Regions from separate parts of the Homo sapiens genome. Here region 2 is linked to region 1. A link means that fine-mapping ties the variant in region 1 to the expression of a gene that starts in the linked region. Tissue or cell type: whole blood. Region 1 holds a variant in brackets; the other region holds the start of a gene. All regions are shown on one strand. Distances are between the middles of the regions.

Region 1 (11,306 bases):
CTACTAAAAATACAGAAATTAGCCCGGTGTGGTGGTGCATGCCTGTAATCCCAGCTACTCAGGAGGCTGAGGCAGGAGAATCGCCTGAACCCAGGAGGAGGAGAATCGCCTGAACCCAGGAGGCAGAGGTTGCAGTGAGCTGAGATCCTGCCACCGCACTCCAGCCTGGGCAACAAGAGCGAAACTCCGTCTCAAAACAAAACAAAACAAAACCAGCTGAAGAAGTTCCTTTGATTAACAGCACAGCACGGAAATGTTAGCTCTCCTTAGCCAAACCTTGAAAGATACTCTTATTTAATCACAGTTTTAAATGTTAGCTTGCTTACCTTAAAAAAAAAAAAAAGCCAGAAGTCAGATATTCATGATGTGAGATAAAATTCTTAAGTGTGGAGGGAACAAAAACTACAACCTTTTGTAAAAGTCACAAAAGGCCAATCTATTGTATCACATATCCTCAAAGAAGAGTCAGGGCATGCTGAAACATGCTGTGTTTTGTTTTTACTAACATTTTCCTTATTACAAAAATGTTACATTCTCATTAGATAAGAATACTTAAAAAAATAAAATATTATCAATATAATTAATGCACTGGTGTTTTTCCTCCTATAACTTTTCTGTGCATAGTTTTCCCTTTCTTTAATTACATGTTATAATGTAATCCTTATAAACATAATTTTAATGATTGAATATGTTTCCAAGGAAAAGAAATATAGTTTACTAAACCATTTCTCTAGTCGTGGACAAAGAGTTGATGGAGACATTTATTGTGTGTGTGCTTTTACATTGACATTTTAAAAACAAGAACTTCTGAAAAATACAAAAGTACAAAAAGTTGCAAAAATTCAATTTCCTACTTTCCTCCCCAGAAATAACCACTGTTTAATTTTATTTTGTGCATATCTTTCCAGACCTTTGTCTTTGAACATACATTCATATTGAAAGGCAAAATCCTTACACAAATTTGCTAAATTAGTTATAAGATTGCTTAACTTTCTCAGGGCAATAAAGACCTGGAACATTTGGAATTAATGTCTCTATCAGGTGGCAAAAGCATCCTAACAATGTATCAATGTTTACAGATTAATTTCTAATCTTATAGAGCAGTAGTGCAGTAGTTTTTCTGTACCTTCGTCAGATGTTGGTTCTTGTCGGCTCTTCATATTTGTGGGTTTTACATTTGAGGATTCAACCAACTGCAGATCAAAATATTTTTAAAAAAGTAGTTGGGGGCGGTGGCTCACGCCTGTGATCCCAGAACTTTGGGAGAACAAGATGGGGGAGGATCATTTGAGCCCAGGAGATTGAGACCAGCCTGAGTACATGGGGAGACTCCATGTCTACAGAAAATAAAAAAATTAGCCAGGCACTGTGGTGTGTGCCTGTGGGACACAGCTACTTGGGAGGTTGTGGTGGGAGGGTCGCTTGAGCCTGAGCAGTTAAGGCTGCAGTGAGCCGGGATCATGCCACTGCAAAACTGCACTCCAGCCTGGGTGACAGAGCAAGACCCTGTCTCAAAAAAACAAAAAACAGGCTAGGCGAGGTGGCTCATGCCTGTGATCCCAGCACTTCGGGAGGCTGAGGCGGGCAGATCACCTGAGGTCGGGAGTTCGAGACCAGCCTGACCAACATGGGGAAACCCTGTCTCTACTGAAAATACAAAAAATTGGCGGGGTGCAGTGGCTCACGCCTGTAATCCCAGCATTTTGGGAGGCCGAGGTGGGTGGATCACGAGGTCAGGAGTTCGAGACCAGACTGGCCAATATGGTGAAACCCTGTCTCTACTAAAAATACAAAAATTAGTCGGGCGTGGTGGCACTCGCCTGTAGTCCCAGCTACTCGGGAGGCTGAGGCAGAAGAATCACTTGAACCTGGGAGGCAGAGGTTGCAGTGAGCCGAGATTGTGCTACTGCACTCCTGCCTGGGCAACAAGAGCAAAACTGTCTCAAAAAAACCAAAAACAAAACAAAAAAAGAGGCCTAGCACAGTGGTGTGGAGTTCCAGCTACTCAGAAGGCTGAGGTGGGAGGATTGCTTGAGCCCAGGAGTTTGAGGCTGCAGTGAGCTATGATTGTGCCACTGCACTCCAGCCTGGGCAACAGACTGAGACCCCGTCTTTTTTTTTTTTTTTTTTTTCAGATGGAGTCTCGCACTGTGGCCCAGGCTGGAGTGCAGTGGTGCGATCTCGGCTCACTGCAAGCTCCGCCTCCCGGGTTCACGCCGTTCTCCTGCCTCAGCCTCCCGGTAGCTGAGACTACAGGCGCCTGCTACCACGCCCGGCTAATTTTTTGTATTTTTAGTAGAGACGGGGTTTCACCGTGTTAGTCAGGATGGTCTTAATCTCCTGACCCCGTGATCTGCCCACCTCGGCCTCCCAAAGTGCTGGGATTACAGGCATGATCCACCGTGCCTGGCCGAAACAGTTTATTAACATGTGCCGCCTGTATACACGCCTGACCCTGTCTCTTAAAAAAAAAAAAGATTGCTTCTGTACTGAACATGTACAGACTATTTTTTCTTGTCACTAGTCCCTAAACAATACAGAATTACAACTATTTACATAGCATTTACATTGTATTATGTATTATAAGTAATCTAGAGATGATTTAAAGTGTGTAGGAGGATGTGAGTAGGTCATATGCAAATACTATGTAATTTTACATAAGAGACTTAAGCATCCGTGGATTTTGGTAACTGAGGGTGGATCCTAGAACCAATCCCACATGGATACTTATCATTTCTTACGAGTGTGACATTCGGGCAAGTGGACTTGGAAAATGATCTGGCATGGTATCAAAAATCAAGCAATTGGCTGGGCGCGGTGGCTCACGCCTGTAATCCCAGCACTTTGGGAGGCCGAGGCAGGTGGATCTCGAGGTCAGGAGATCGAGATCATCCTGGCTAACACCATGAAACCCTGTCTCTACTAAAAATACAAAAAATTAGCTGGGCGTGGTGGCAGGCACCTGTAGTCCCAGCTACTCGGGAAGCTGAGGCAGGAGAATGGCATGAACCCGGGAGGCGGAGTTTGCAGTGAGCTGAGATCGCGCCACTGTACTCTAGCCTGGGCGACAGAGTGAGACTCTATCTCAAAAAAAAAAAAAAAAAAAAAAATCAAGCAATTATCATTTACCTCTTTACAGAATTGGTATACATTTTCTTTAAATATACATAGAGTATACATATTTAAGGTATATATTTATACACACATACCTTCTCACTTGGAAGTTATGAAAGTATTTTCTAAAATTTTTTTTCTGTTAGCTTTATATCTTTATTTGGCTTAAAATTTTTAAATCCCCCCTGCCCTGCCACCAAAAGTATTTATTATTTGATATGATGTAAGGATTTTTATTTTTCTTGAAAACAAACAAAACAGCACCTGTTGAATAGTTCATCTTTCCCCACAATTTGAAAGGAAACTTTAGGTTGCTATATAGTATACATATGCACTTGAGTCTATTTCTGGACCTTATTCTTTTTCAGTGGCCAATTTGTCCCTGCTTAAATATGACAATGTTATTTTTTCTTCTTTTTTTGAGACAGAGTCTCACTATGTTGCCCAGGCTGGTCTCACAATCCTGGGCTCAAGCCAGTCTCCTCCCCCAACCTCCCAAAGTGCTGGTATTGTAGGCATGTGCCACCACGCCTGGCCAACAATGTTTTGATAGCTTTATATTTTGATATCTGGGACAGCATGTCTCCCATATTTATCCCTGTACTCAAAATATGTGATGTATGTTAATCAACTCTTCATGTTTTTATTAATAATTTATATTATTTTTAACTGGTAGAATCTAGGCATGGTCAAAAGAATAAAAGGAAAAATTAATCACACTCCCAATTCTGCATCTCAGCCATCCAGTTTGCTTCTCCAAAGGCAACTAATATTCTAGCTTCTTGGGTATCACTATATGGATATTCTATAGATCATATTTGAGTTGTTTCTATCTTTTGGCTTTTGCAAAGGTGAAATGGACATTCTTAAAAAAAATATATATATATATATATATATATATATATATATTTTTTTTTTTTAAGACGGAGTCTCGCTCTGTCGCCAGGCTGGAGTGCAGTGGTGTGATCTTGGCTCATTGCAACTTCTGCCTCCCAGGTTCAAGCGATTCTCCTGCCTTAGCCTCCCGAGTAGCTGGGACTACAGGTGCATGCCACCATACCCAGCTAATTTTTGTATTTTGCAGAGGTTGCAGTGAGCTGAGATCATGCCATTGTACTCCAGCCCAGGCAACAAGAGCAAAACTCTGTCTCAAAAAAAAAAAAAAAAAACTTAGCCAGGCATGATAGTGGGCAACTGTAATCCCAGCTACTAAAAACACAAAAAATTAGCCGGGCGTGGTGGCGGGTGCTTGTAGTCCCAGCTACTCAGGAGGCTGAGGCAGGAGAATGGCGTGAACCCGGAAGGTGGAGCTTGCAGTGAGCTGAGGTCACGCCACTGCACTCCAGCCTGGGCGACAGAGTGAGACTCCGTCTCAAAAAAATAAAATAAATAAATAAATAAATAAAATAAACTCAGTCATTCTGGTGGATAACACAGATAACTTTGTGGCTTTCCTCTTCACTATGGGGGATAACAGCTTTAACTGTTTGCTATTTGTAATTCCTATTTTATGTAATGCCTGCTTAAGACTTTAGCATGCTTGGGAAGAGGATGTACATCTTTTCCTGGTTTTCATTATGGATTTACAACTTTGCAAAATGTTTACATCTTTGAGCCACCTAGAATTAACTGTAATGGAAGGTAAGCTGTAGGAGTTCAACTCTCGTTTTCCAGCTGGCTACTCAGTTGTCACAATACTATTTATTGAACAATTCATCCTAGATAAATATAGAATCAATTTTTGTGCATGTCCATTTTTTATCTATTGGCAACTAATAAGAAGTAAAACCAACACTGCAGACAAGCATATGAGAGAAGGTATTTTAATTGAGATCTTTTATAAATTGCAATTTGAGAGACACAAATCGAGCAAGCAGCTAAATCATATTCCATACAGACAAGCTGGGCAGGGGCTTATAAAGGTTCCTGGCAAGTTTATACAAGTGGAAAATTTTAGCACAGTCTATGATTGACAATGGCTGATTGACAGCTTAGATGTCTCTTGGTGATGAACGACCTAATTTGGCACAGCTGTCTTCTCAGGAGATTTGTGATCAGGCCCAGTGTAAACAGTTCACATCAAATTCAGCTGCTTCTTTAGGATGTTTGTGATTTGGTCCAATTTGAACATGTCAAATTTCATCTGAGTATATGGGTGATGGGGGTCCAACTCCTTATGCCCTCCTGGCTCCTTTTTAGAGACCTCTGGCATAATCATCTCCATTTTGGATTTCTTTTCAGATTTTCCCCTTTTGATTTAAATATTTCCTTAGAAACCACTGAGATCAATTATTTCAGTAAGCCCTTTGGTTCTGGAATAGATTTGTCCCAGGAAGTCATGTCCCATGGAGGAGGGAGTCATGGTAATGATAGTGGATGATCTGTGTCAAATGGAATAGTCCAAATTTGAGCAACAAGGAGGAGTTGAGGATGTGGGCCCCAATTGTGGTGCACATATGTGGTTAGGGTAGGATTCATGATTGTAGGCCTAATCTGTCAGTTCAATGTGTTGAGCCACCATAATTTTAGTTTCGTTGACAGCAACAGTGTGGCATCAAGCTGAGAGAGGAGAAAAGAAAGAACCAGCTAGGAAGGCGGTTAGGGCAGGTGCTCAGTAGAATTCTTTCAAACAAAGGAACAACCTGAAAACTCAGGCTACAGATACAGATAAGGGAACTAGCACAGGCAGCTTGCCTAGGATATACCCATAGCTGCACAGATAAGGAAGCAAGGCCCAACATAGAAGCACCTTTGTTCTTTGTGTAAGCAGCAGCCTTCCAGGAAATAGTTTCTTTTCCTTTTGTGGGCATGTAGATGGTGGGCTGTGGTGAGTACATTCCTTTCCTTTTTTGGGCATACTTTGGACTGTGAGCCAAACCTCTATGAATCATCACTCCAACACTAGGCTGGTTGTGAGCCAAGGCTCCAGTTGGTCCTTTACACCATCATGCCATTTTCTAAGTGGTGCCTTTTCTAAAGACAACCACCAGTCAGCCAGCACACTAGGGGTACAGGGTGGAGCTACCAGAAATTCACAACTTATGCAATTTCAGTTATGCAAATGAAATGCCCAGACCCATCTGGTTCCTCTGGGTTCCTCATAACAGCCTTTGTACTCAATTGTGAAATGGCAACCCTCTCAGGTCCCCTCTCTGCAGTGGAGAGCTTTCCTCTTTCACTTATTAAACTTTTGCTCTAAACTCACCCTTGGTGTCCACATTCCTTACTCTTCTTGGTCATGAGACAAAGAGCTCCAGGTAATACCTCAGGCAACAAGACTACCTCAAAGCCATTTAACAAGAATATAGTTTAACGAGGATAAACATGACTAGGGTCACAAACAAGAATAACAGGATAAGTTGGAACCCAGATCTTAAAATATTTCCAATAACTGTAGGAAGCAAACAAAAAAGATCAGAAAATTCAAGATTAACCCAATTAAAAAGACTACCAGAAGGTATACCTTTTAAGGATCTGACTAATCTTGGAATCTTCGAGGTTTCCAGTACTACCTGAATTTTTTTATTATTATTATTTTTTGAGACAGGCTATCAC[G/A]TCGTCACCAGGCTGGAGTGCAGTGGTGGGATCTCAGCTCACCGCAGCCTCAACGTCCCAGGCTCAAGTGATCCTCCAACCTCAGCACCCCCTAGTAGGTGGGACTACAGGTGTGTACCACCACACCTGGCTAATTTTTGTAGTTTTATTAGGGATGGAGTTTCACCATGTTGCCCAGGCTGGTCTTGAACTCCTGCCTGCCTTGGCCTCCCAAAGTGCCGGGATTAGAAGTGTGAGCCACAGCACCCAGCCTTGAATTTTTTATTTACCCAAGCAGAACCAGAGGTGTTGGATATAGCAGACTCCTCCTTGAGCACTGAGTAAATAATCTGAAACTCTTCTATTATCTAATCTTTCACATGCTAGGGATTCTAAGGAGTTTTGTTGGGTCTAATGTCTCTTCCTACAAAGACAGCAAATTGTTACTGAACTTATGCAAATGACTATATTGCCATAAAAGAAGATTAATCACAAATGGTTTCCAAATTCTGAAGGGACCAGGTAGACAGAAATGCAAATGTTTCAATTCTGCTCACAAAAGTCTACTTTACCCAATTGATCTAAGCTATAAATAGCTTAAAGAAGAATAAAATTTTCCTTGACTCTGAAGAACAAAATATAAAGAATGTGGAATGCTTCAGATAAAAAGAACTCATAAAAAATTTCAATTCTTCATCAGTTGAGTCCCATGTAATTAATTCTTGTTTTTCTTGATGTCGGATTAGGAATCTTCATGAACACTTTAGTTTACTCATCAGAGTTCTGGAAGTTTTTACCTAGTCCAATGGTATGATCTCAAAAATTATAAAAAATCTGTATTCAAGAATGCTTGTTATGGTTTTTTTTCATGAATTTCCTTGAAGAAGCAGCAAATTTGGGGCTGCATGTCGTGTTTTATGCCTGTAATCCTAGTACTTTGCAAGGTCAAAGCGGGCAGATCACTTGAGCCCAGGAGTTCCAGAGCAGCCTGAACAACATAGTGAGACCTCATTTCTACAAAAAAATAAAAATAAATTAGCCAGCCATGGTGGCATGCGCCTGTGGTCCTAGTTACTTGGGAGGCTGAGGTGGGAGGATCACCTGAGCCCAGGAGTTCAAGGCTGCAGTGAGCTATGATCACACCACTGCATTCCAGCCTGAGTGGTGACAGAGTGAGACCCTGTCTCCAAAGAAAAAAAAAAAAAGCAAATTTTAGACTGTAGCTGATTATAAACCACCTTTTGAAGAGAATCAAGATCAAGGTAGGCCAGGTGCAGTGGCTCACGCCTGTAGTCCCAGCACTTTGGGAGGCCAAGGCGGGTGGATCACGAGGTCAGGAGTTTAAGACCAGCCTGGCCAAAATGGTGGAACCCAGTCTCTACTAAAAATACAAAAAATTCGCCAGGCGTGGTGGCAGGCACCTGTAATCCCAGCTACTTGGGAGGCTGAGGCAGGAGAACGGCATGAACCCGGGAGGCGGAGCGCTTGCAGTCAGCTGAGATCGTGCCACTGCACTCCAGCCTGGGCGACAGAGTGAGACTCAGCCTCAAAAAAAAAAAAAAAAAAAAAAAAACAAGGTAAAATAACAATTGCCTGTGGATGACAAAAGAGAATAGTCATGATTAATGATGGAACTGATAAGGAAGTATGGTTATTTCTGTGGTGTCAACAATTTAACACAATAATTAGAATTATGACTGATAACACATACCAAGATATATCAGATCTTTTTAGAAATTTTATACAATTTTGGAACACATATTAAAAATGCATTTATACAAATACAACTTCAAGAAGGTAAAACGTTATTTCTTATTTGACAATGAAATACCTCCTGTATAATTTAAGTAAAAGTTGATATTTAGGCTATGTATTTATACATATATAATACATATAAATCTTTTTTTTTTTTTTTTTTTTGAGAGAGAGAGGGTCTCACTCTATCACCCAGGCTGGAGTGCAGTGGTGTAATCATAGTTCACTACAGCCTCGAACTCTGGGGCTCGAGGGATCCTCTTGCCTCAGCCTCCAGATAGCTGGGATTATAAATGCATGCTGCCATGCTGGCTAATCAAAAAAATATATATTTGTAGAGACTTCGTCTCACTATGTTGCCCATGCTGGTCTTGAACTCCTGGCCTCAAGCAATCCTCCTACCTTGTTCTCCCAAAGTGTGGGCCATCTCACCCAGCCTGAATTCCTCTCCTCTTAAACTCCAGCTGACTATATGTGCTCCACCTCTCTGCTTTTTTTCTTGTTGACATTAATTTTGCCAAGGATAATGTAAAATTTATTTGGCTTTTTGGGAACAAGACCTCAAACTGGCTCCTCTAAGACTTGTTCTTCCATTTATATCCCTCCTTCCTCTTGCCACCTTTGCTACCACATGAGGGCAACTAACAACTATGTTTTATTATTTTTGTTTAATATTATTGAATTTTTGTTAATTGTTTGTAGAAAGAGGGTCTCGCTGTGTTGCCTAGGCTGGTCTTGAACTCCTGGCCTCAAGCAATACTCTCACCTCAGCCTCCCAAAGTGCTGGGATTATAGGCATGAGCCACTGAGCCCAGCTGGTAACGAAGACTTATAACAGTCCTGGGTCTCCTTGAGGACCCCTTGAAGGCCACATATTCCTTTTCTGGGGGTGGGAGGATCACTGTTTTCCTCGTAGAGCCCCAAGAGCTGTGGGTGGATAGGTTCCTCTCAGGTCTAACTCTCTACTCTTTTTCATATTTAACCTTGATCCTTTTGGCTTTTAGATACATACATGTGAGTTGGGCATAGTGGCACATGGCTATAATCCCAGGTACTCAGGTCGCTGAGGCAGAAAGATCATTTGAACTCAGGAGTTTGAGGCCATCCTGGACAGCATAGCGAGACCATGTCCCAAACAAAGAAACAAAGCCAAATAGACACATACATGTGTATGATATATGTTGTATCTACATGTATTTATATGTCTATACATATGTTTGTGTATTGTCTACATGGTACCAAATTAACTTAAAAATAAATGAGTGCTCATAAATAAGTTGAAATATTTTTTAAGTTTATGTGACTTTAGTAAATCTTTTGGTAGACAAGGCTAGTTTAATATTGTTGGTTTAATAAAAACAATTATGTCTCCTGAGTTGTCAGCAAAACATGCATGTATTTAACTTTAAGTTTCTTACTTTTATGATATTTACCTAACATACAGTAATAAAAAATGGTTACCTTTAGAATTTTGCTAAGCTAAATTAAATTATGGATAGTCATTGAATATCTAGGTCATTTCCAAATAAGATATAATGCTAAGACATTAATTACTAAATTCGAGTTTAAGCTTATATACTTTTGGCTCTGTTTGTTTGGTTATTTGAGACAGAGTCTCACTCTGTCACCCAGGCTGGAGTGCAGGGGCACGATCTCGGTTCATGGCAACCTCTGCCTCCCAAGTTCAAGGGATTCTCATGCTCTAAAAAGTCAAAAGTCAAAAGTCGATTTTGACTGTAGAGCTCTTAAAAAAAATCTTTTGACCAGATTTTAGATGGACAAATAGCAAACATTCCTATTTCTTGGCTTCATTTCTGAAATTTGCACCAAGAAGAAGCTTTTTGTTTTTGTTGTTTTTTGTTTGTTTGTTTTTGCAGGGGTGGGGGTATATTTGCCTATTAGAGGTCTAGAATAATCACTATTTTATTTATTTGTTTGTTTTTCCCGAGACAACTCTGTCACCCAGGCTGGAGTGCAGTGGCTCGGTCTCAGATCACTGCAACCTCCACCTCCCAGGCTCAAGTGATTCTCATGTCTCAGCCTCCTGAATAGCTGGGACTACAGGCGCGTGCCACCATGCCTGGGTAATTTTTGTGCTTTTAGTAGAGACAGGATTTCACTATGTTGGCCAGGCTGGTCTCAAACTCCAGGCCTCAAGTGATCCGCTCGCCTCAGCCTCCCAAAGTGCTGGGATTACAGGCGTGAGCCACCATGCCCAGCACTAGAATAATCACTATTTAAAGCTGTTGTCTTTGAAATGTTTTAATAAACTTGTTGAGTATGTGGTTCCATTTAGCTCAGGAGAGAAGGCTGAACAAACAAAGGAACAAAAAGTTTTCATAAATTTATAAATTTCATAAATTTAAATATAAACTATATAAATATTTTATATTTAAAATATAAACCGATGTTTAAAATCAAAGGTATACCTGAACAAATGAGAAAACCAACACAAATAAACACACAGGAGACCCAAACCAAGAAGCCCTTTTAAACCAAGCCCTTCATTAAAACTTGGCTTTAATCAAGTTTCCCAAAGAGGGAGCAAAAGTTAGCAGCCCTTACAGGATCCAGACCCTCCCAAGGACAGCTTAGAGAAAGCTTCCCTAGCAACAATTGGGGTGCAACCCCACATTTGTTCACCATATTCTCTATGGCCTCAGCTTTTCAGCCCAGTGTCTGCCAGACCTTCCACAAAGGCAGACCTTCCCTTGTGTGCCCAGCAGACAGACAATGAGAAGAGACAGTCACTAAAAGAGGAAAACAAAAGCTGCCCATGGGGGTGGAAAGAATTACAAATGGGCACCCCAAAACCTCAAGAGTCACACCAAAAATTCAAAACAATTAACCAAGCTAATTCTTATAAATGTTTCTCCCCTGAGCTAAAGACATCCCCTGAGGAA
Region 2 (7,651 bases), 34 kb before region 1:
ATTTATTGGGCACTTGCCATGCATCAGGAGCTGTTTAACTGTGATATGCATGAAACTCATGTAACTCTACCATAACAATCCTATGACATTAGTGCTTGTCCCCATTTTATAGATGAGAGAACAGGCAGAGGTTTATTTTCCAGGGTTGGCTGAGTGCTACAGCCAAGATCTGAACCAAAGCAGTGTGGTTACAGGGACCATGGTCTTAATCATTAGGTGAGACTTCCTAACACACTTTGTGGTTACAGATGAAAGCCCTGGACATGATCACTTTGGCTGCACGGGAAGCATCCTCCCAGAGTGGTGCTCTGCGCCACATTCCCCTATGTGCCACCAACAGTAATAAAATATAATAAAAACAATCAAATAAACACAGCACAGACAGAAGCAGACCTCTGCCCAGGTAACTTCCACCACAATTCCCTTACCAAAGACCTCTTTCCTTATTTTGCTAAGATTAACAACTGATTTTTCAGTACTATGCCAACAACATTTCTTCTCAAGCTTTGCTGTCAATTCCATTGTGACCCACAGTTTAATTTAAAACCGATGTTGATTCACTGAGCTAGTAATTTTATTCGGTAATAGGTGAATTACTCCATAGTTGAGTGTGAATAACCGCCTGGTTAAATCAGGGCGGGTTTCTTAGAGGTGATACACTTACCGTTGAGCACAACTTTACTCTTTAATTATCGTGTACATTCCCATTTCCCTCCAAACACGTCAGTCCCTCTCCACACAGTGTTTACTTCTTTGGTCCTAGGGACAGCAAGAAACATTTTATAATAAAAGAGCACATGCTAATGTGTTTACTAGATATGACACTGCTGTGCAAAACTGTTTTCTTTTATGGCTGCACTGAAAGCATGCTAAGTTTACTGAATTCTTATTAAGTGTCCTAAGTAACAGAAATAGAAACTAGGTCTGGCCTGAAAATACCATTCACTTAAGTTAGAATTTATGTGCGCTCCTCTAGGTCCGCTATTGTAGTATCACTGCAAAACAATAATACTTTATCTCTGCACTTGTCTTTATTGGATTAATATTAAACAGAAAAAAATCCGACTGCACAGGGGAAAAAACCTAAAACCTTAACATGCATGCACATTAACAGTGACTGAAACATGATTAAAGCTAACACATTTAGCAGAAAAATGCAATCCCCAAACAAGCTCTGCGGCCCGCCTACTGAAATGCACCCGCCCGCCACTAAATGAAAATGCGCCTCAAGCTCATACACATCCTTATGTTAAGACAGTATGCACTCGATGTACTACAAATAAATTGTTTTCACGGAAATGATTCCCCGAAAGTTTGCTGCTGAACTCAGGACCCTAAGGACGTTTGCTTAGGGAATCCGTGTCCCTCGAGAACACCTAAGATGGGTATGCGTTTGTGCATTTAAAAATGCCTCAAGGAACTATTGCTGAGGAACAGAAACCATCGCCGGCGCAGAAGCGTTCGCGGACCACTTGGAGATAGATGCCAGTACAGCAATTCTGTTCCAGGAGGCTTCGGCTTAAGAGGGCCGGGGAGGAGGAGAACCCTCGGGAAATAGCAAAAAAAAAAAAAGATTTTTCTTTTTCACTCCAGCGACAGGAAAGCCTTAAAAACATAAGCAGCTCTCATACCCACCCGCCTCACCAGCCGCGCCTCGCAGTTCGACAAAATGCGTCCTAGCCTTCGCCACTCGCGACCTCTACCGCGCAGAGCCAGGCAATGAGGGAAAACAGCCAGCGAGGCCCGCCCTCCGGTGCAAGGCTCGGCATCCGCGGAGGCCCAGGGCCGGCCCCGGTGCGGCGGGCAGAAGCAAGCGCGGCGGCCCGGCCCAGCTCCGGTGGGCGGACGGCGGGACGCGCGAGCCGGCGGGGCCCGAGGCCCGGGTTCCGGGGCCGCCCGCGACTGCGTCTTTGCCGCAGAACAAAAGCGCTCTGCGCCGCGCGCAGGCCCGGACCGCGAGTGCCTCTGGCTCCCGGCTCCCGGCCCCCGCCCCGCCCGGACCCCGGAAGGCGGAGGGACCTCGGGGTGCTCGTCTCACACTTACCGACAAAGGGAAGAGGACCACCCCGGCAAGCGGGGAGAAAACCGGCGGCCTCCCGGGCCCCAGAGTTTAAGTCAAGTGGGGTCCGCCTCCAGGGGCGGGTCGAGGAGCCAGGCCCAGGATCCAGGAACAGCTACGCTCCGCCTCACGCCCGAGGCGGTGGCTGCGAGGGCCGCGCCGCCGCGGTCCTAGTGCCACCAGAGAAGCCGCGGACCCGGCCCGCAGATAACACCCGGGCTTGCAGAGCGCTTTCATCTGCCCGACGCGGAAATCTCCTGCAGCGATCTTCTACCTTCAGCGTGCATCCGCAGCACCCAGAGGGCACGTTAAAGAGAGATTGAGAACCACCAGCAAAACTGCTGATTCAGTAGGTTTGGGGTGGGGCTGAAAAATGTGCATTTCTAACAAGTTCCTGAGACCGACTGTTGCTGCTGGCCTCAGGACCAATTTTTTCTATAAAGCGCATGGAAGTCAGAGTGCACCCAAGAGATTGTTAACCCTTAAAAAACAGAAAAAAAAAAAAGAAATCAACAAGTTAGAGGCAAATAAGTGTGAAAGAAAGTGGATAGTCTATTTGGGGATTCTGAAAGTCCCTGAGGAAAGTTGACTTTGGAGACCAGATCACGAAGCACGACCTCTTAATTGCCGACCTTTTGTTATAGATTAACTCCCTTATTTTCTTGTTCCCAGCTCAGACCAGATGGCATCTGAGATAAAATACGCATTGAATAAGATAAATGACCGCTTGACTATTACATCCTTAATGTGGAATGTTAAATAGACCCTTCCCAAAAAGAAACACTGCCTTGAACCAATCAAATTGCTATGCGTTAACCTTCTATGGAAAATGTTGACATCCTGTTAAGCTTCCCAGACCCTGCCTGTGTAAACGACCCTCAAACTTCTCCCTTTCGAAGCACTGACCCCCATCTTTTGGAGTCTGTGTCCTACCGGGTCGCCATCCTCAAACTTTGCACTCAAATAAACCAATATTTAATCATATTGCCCGAATCTCATTATTAAGGTTTACGTAAGCGTTTACTTAGTAATGAAGGTTGCAACCAGGATGGCAAATCAGAGATTGTGCCACTGGAGAGGGGCAAGGGAGCTTATGTTTATAGGAATTTATTTGTTACATAAATTGTCAGATTAGTTCATTGGTGAATTAAACGAAGAAGTCTTTAGTCATTACTAGAAGAGTGCGTTTGCGTCTGTCAGAAACAAAACAAAAAAACTACATACAGAATATTCTTTCTTTTTTGGGGGGGGGACGGAGTCACGCTCTGTCGCCCAGGCTGGAGTGCAGTGGCACGATCTCGGCTCACTGCAAGCTCCGCCTCCCAGGTTCACGCCATTCTGCTGCCTCAGCCTCCCAAGTAGCTGGGACTACAGGCGCCCGCCACCATGCCCGGCTAATTTTTTGTATTTTAGTAGAGACGGGGTTTCACCATGTTAGCCAGGATGGTCTCGATCTCCTGACCTCTTGATCCGCCCGCCTTAGCCTCCCAAAGTGCTGGGATTACAGGCATGAGCCACCGCGCCCGGCCAGAATATTCTTAAAGATTGGGGGTGGCCAGGTGTGGTGGCTCAGGCCTGTAACCCCAGCACTTTGTGTCACGCGCATCCGTGTGAAGAGACCACCAAACAAGCTTTGCGTGAGCAACAAGACTGTTTATTTCACCTGGGTGCAGGCGGGCTGAGTCCGAAAAGAGAGTCAGCAAAGGGTGGTGGGATTATCTTTAATTCTTATAGGTTTTGGGAGAGGCTCCGCGGAACAATGTTTTGCGGGCAGGGGGTGGATCTCACAAAGTACATTCTCAAGGGTGGGGAGAATTACAAAGAACCTTCTTAAGGGTGGGGGAGATTACAAAGAACCTTCTTAAGGGTGGGGAGAATTACAAAGAACCTTCTTAAGGGTGGGGGAGATTACAAAATACATTGATCTGTTAGGATGGGGCAGAAACAAATCACAATGGTGGAATGTCATCAGTTAAGGCTATTTTCGCTTCTTTTGTGGATCTTCAGTTGCTTCAGGCCATCTGGATGTATACGTGCAGGTCACAGGGGATATGATGGCTTAGCTTGGGCTCAGAGGCCTGACAGTTTGGGAGGCTGAGGTGGGTGAATCACTTGAAATCAGGAGTTTGAGACCAACGTGACCAACATGGTGAAACCCTGTTTCTACTAAAAATATAAAAATTAGCCAGGCGTGGTTGTGGGCACCTGTAATTCTCAGCTACTCGGGAGGCTGAGGCGGGAGAATTGCTTAAACCCAGGAAGCAGAGGTTGCAGTGAGCCGAGATCACGCCACTGCACTCCAGCGTGGGCCACAGAAAGAGTCTGTCTCATGAAACAAAACAAACAAAAAAAGATTGGGGATCAGGCGTGGTGGCTTATGCTTGTAATCCCAGCACTTTGGGGAGGATCACTTGAGGCCAGGAGTTTGAGAGAGCAGCCTTGCCAACATGGTGAACCCAATCTCTACAAAAAATATACAAAAAACAAAAAAAATTAGCCAGGAGTGGTGGCATGCGCCTGTAGTCCCAGCTACTTGGGAGGCTGAGATGGGGGGATCACTTGAGCTTGGGAGGCAGAGGTTGCAGTGAGCCAAGATTGAGCCACTGAACTCCGGCCTGGGTGACAGAGTAAGAGCCTGTCTCGGAAAATAATAATAATAATAATAATAATATTGAGACCAGCTTTCTTGGGTTGTGTGTTGTTGCAAAAACGGTTGTGTTAGATATGAATTCTAAATTTCTCTTCAAAGAATCAATATGTCAGTATGGTCAATCTTTGCCTTTTACTTTTAAACTTAACTTCCTCGTAAAGCAACCTTTTTCCATCACCTGCTCCACCCTGACTCATTTCAATCACCTGCTCCACCCTGACTCATTCCGATTTCCTGCCCCGCCTTAACCATTTTTCCTGCCAAACCGCTCACCCCATCACTCTCTTTAAATTAGCCAATCAGAATTAGTTTAGCCTGTGCGGTCTAACCCTAGCCAACAGGGGAACGACACAGCAGCAGAGGCCACGTGCATCAGGAATAAGAACCCCTTCCCCTCCCTTGCCCAGGTGTGAGCTCACCATTGCTCCATCTGTGAGGGCGCACCCGTCTATAGAAGTACATTGCCGCCGGGCGCAGTGGCTCACGCCTGTAATCCCAGTACTTTGGGAGGCCGAGGCAGGCGGATCATGAGGTCAGGAGATCAAGACCATCATGGCTAACACTAAAAAATACAAAAAATTAGCTGGGCGTGGTGGCAGGTGCCTGTAGTCCCAGCTACTCCGGAGGCTGAGGCAGGAGAATGGCATGAACCCGGGAGGCGGAGCTTGCAGTGAGCCGAGATTGCGACACGCACTCCAGCCTGGGCGACAGAGCAAGACTCTGTCTCAAAAAAAAAAAAAAAAGAAGTACATTGCCTTGCTGAGAATTAAAAAGAAAATTTATATTCGAGTGCTATTTCTTTTGCAACACCAAAACTTTATTTATAACAGTTGTTTGTGAAGGAAATATTTTTCACAGTTTCTTCGTGGGCCTCAAAGTTTAGCAGCAGCTCAGCATGGAGTCAATAGCCCAAGATGGAGTCACTGATATCAAGCCTGGAAAATTGCTAAGCTGCATTAAGGAGACTTTTTTTTTTTTTCATGCTATTGTAGTAAGGACAACATCCATTAATGCAGAGGAATCTTTTCAAAGAAAATGAAATAGACTTAGGGTTTTTATAGGAGGAAGTAAACAAGGAAATCTTGTCTGAATGATTAAGGGATGAGAAAGGGCAGAGGTGGTTAGTTAGTGCTTGTGACATAAGAGGGCAGACTATTCCTTTGCGCTTGAGGTTTGTTGGTTTTGGTTTTTAATTTTTGTAGTCTTCAGTATCTCCTATATCCACCACCATCACCACCTCCTCCATATGGATCTACATAATCTTTTCCACCATAATCTCCCCTCCCACCATCATCTCCTCTGCCTTAGAAACCTCCTTTACCACCTCCATCCCACCTCCTCCCTCTCCCCCACCACTTTCCCATCCTCCTCTACCCCAGCCAACTCTTCCACCTCCACCCCCACAGCCTCTTCTACTACCACCTCTACCTCCACAACCACCACCCCAACCACCCCTTCCGCCACTGCCTTCTTGTCTCTTTTGCCAAGGGGGCATTTCAGAGGGTGGTGGTTCAATTTCATTTGGCCAGCCTCCCCTGTCAGGCACCCTTCCCATCAGCACCTTATTAATGGCACATGCCATCATCTGGCTGGCTCCACTGCTTGTCCTAATGATCTTGGATAGATTATCATGAGCAGCAAGTAGATGCACCATTATAATCGCTGTCTTGGGTGACAAAGCATAACACTGAGGCTGGTAAATTCTTGCTGTGTCATCTTTTCTTACCTTGGCTGTATCACACCGTGCAACGGACTGTATTGCCGCATCTAATTGTTTCATAACATTCGCTAGAGGCACTCATGTTCACAGGAAAGAGCATCATTGACTCTTTCCAGTTGTTCTGCCTGTTTCAAATTTAAATTAATTTTCAGCAGAGTGGTTTTCTTTAATTTTAATAAAAAAATTAACAATTTTTAAAAATTTGAAATAAGATGGGATCTTGCTATGTCACCCAAATTGGTCTCCAACTCCTGGGCTCAAGAGATCCTCCCATCTCTGCCTCACAAAGTGCTGGGATTATAGGCATGAGCCACTGCGTCCTGCCTGTCTTTCACCTTTGATTCCACTTGGTTTAGCATAACCAGAATGTCAGAAGTTGTTTACTTGGGTACACCAAGGTTATCACACAGAACTTGAACTTCCTGATAAATTTCATTATTTTTATCTAATTGAGAATTTTAATGTTTCTTGTTCTGTAATATCTGTGAAGCTTCAAGTTCTGTACTTAAAAATAATAGGAGTTTCAAACAGTCCTTTTTATATTTTTTTATTTACAGTGGCGCGATCTCAGCTCACTGTGGGCTTGACCTCCTTGACTTAAGCAATTCTTCCACCTCAGGCCCCCAAGTAGTTGGAACAACATGCATGCACCACTACACCCAGCTGATTTTTGTATTTTTTGTAGAGATGGGGTTCACCATGTTGCCCAGGCTGGCCTTGAACTCCTGGGACTCAAGCAATCTGTCCACCTTGGTCTCCCAAAGTGCTGGGATAACAGGTGTGAGCCATTGTACCCAGCCAGTCCTCCTTTTTTAAAATGATCTTTAGTATCTCCTGATATGAGTACAGAATATGGACATGCCATTTCTTTTAAAAAAATCATTTACCTCAAGCTGGAAGCTCTCTAGATCATCTCTTCCAGCAGAAGTCATACTTTCTTCCAAGTTGCATAATGATTTTATTTGAAAGCCTAACCATATCCTGTATAGGAATTTATATAGTTTATATATCTATTCCTTTACAGTATATACCACCTTCTTCCTGTATAAAAGCCTATATATATAATCCTATACCGTATATGCTCCTACATATAGTCCACTCTGCTGCCTTCATAAGGGCTTGCTCCTCTAGCAATGGTCCCTTATACCCCAGCACCTCCAGTGTGTCTAGCACATCTCCGTCTATTGTTGGTTCAGGACCCGGCTCTGGCCCTCTAATGGCT

Evidence for each region. PIP is the estimated chance that this variant, and not a neighbour inherited with it, causes the effect.
Region 2: RESF1 starts here. The variant in region 1 is fine-mapped to the expression of RESF1 in whole blood (INTERVAL, PIP 0.91).

The regions. Positions count from the first base shown.
Region 1 is chr12:31,917,583-31,928,888 of GRCh38, reverse strand. No RefSeq gene overlaps it. Among named protein-coding and RNA genes, the nearest start is that of LINC02422, 36 kb to the right of the region's middle. The variant G/A (reference allele first, on the strand shown) is at 6,670.
Region 2 is chr12:31,953,885-31,961,535 of GRCh38, reverse strand. RESF1 (retroelement silencing factor 1) reads right to left here and starts at 2,121. Exons shown (of 6, transcript NM_018169.4): 1 at 2,045-2,121; 2 at 665-759. LOC105369725 (a long non-coding RNA gene) reads left to right here and starts at 2,232. Exons shown (of 2, transcript XR_931503.2): 1 at 2,232-2,408; 2 at 2,732-3,043. It also overlaps the pseudogene LOC100132543. RefSeq lists a silencer at 1,811-2,150 and enhancers at 3,203-3,996, 4,000-4,499.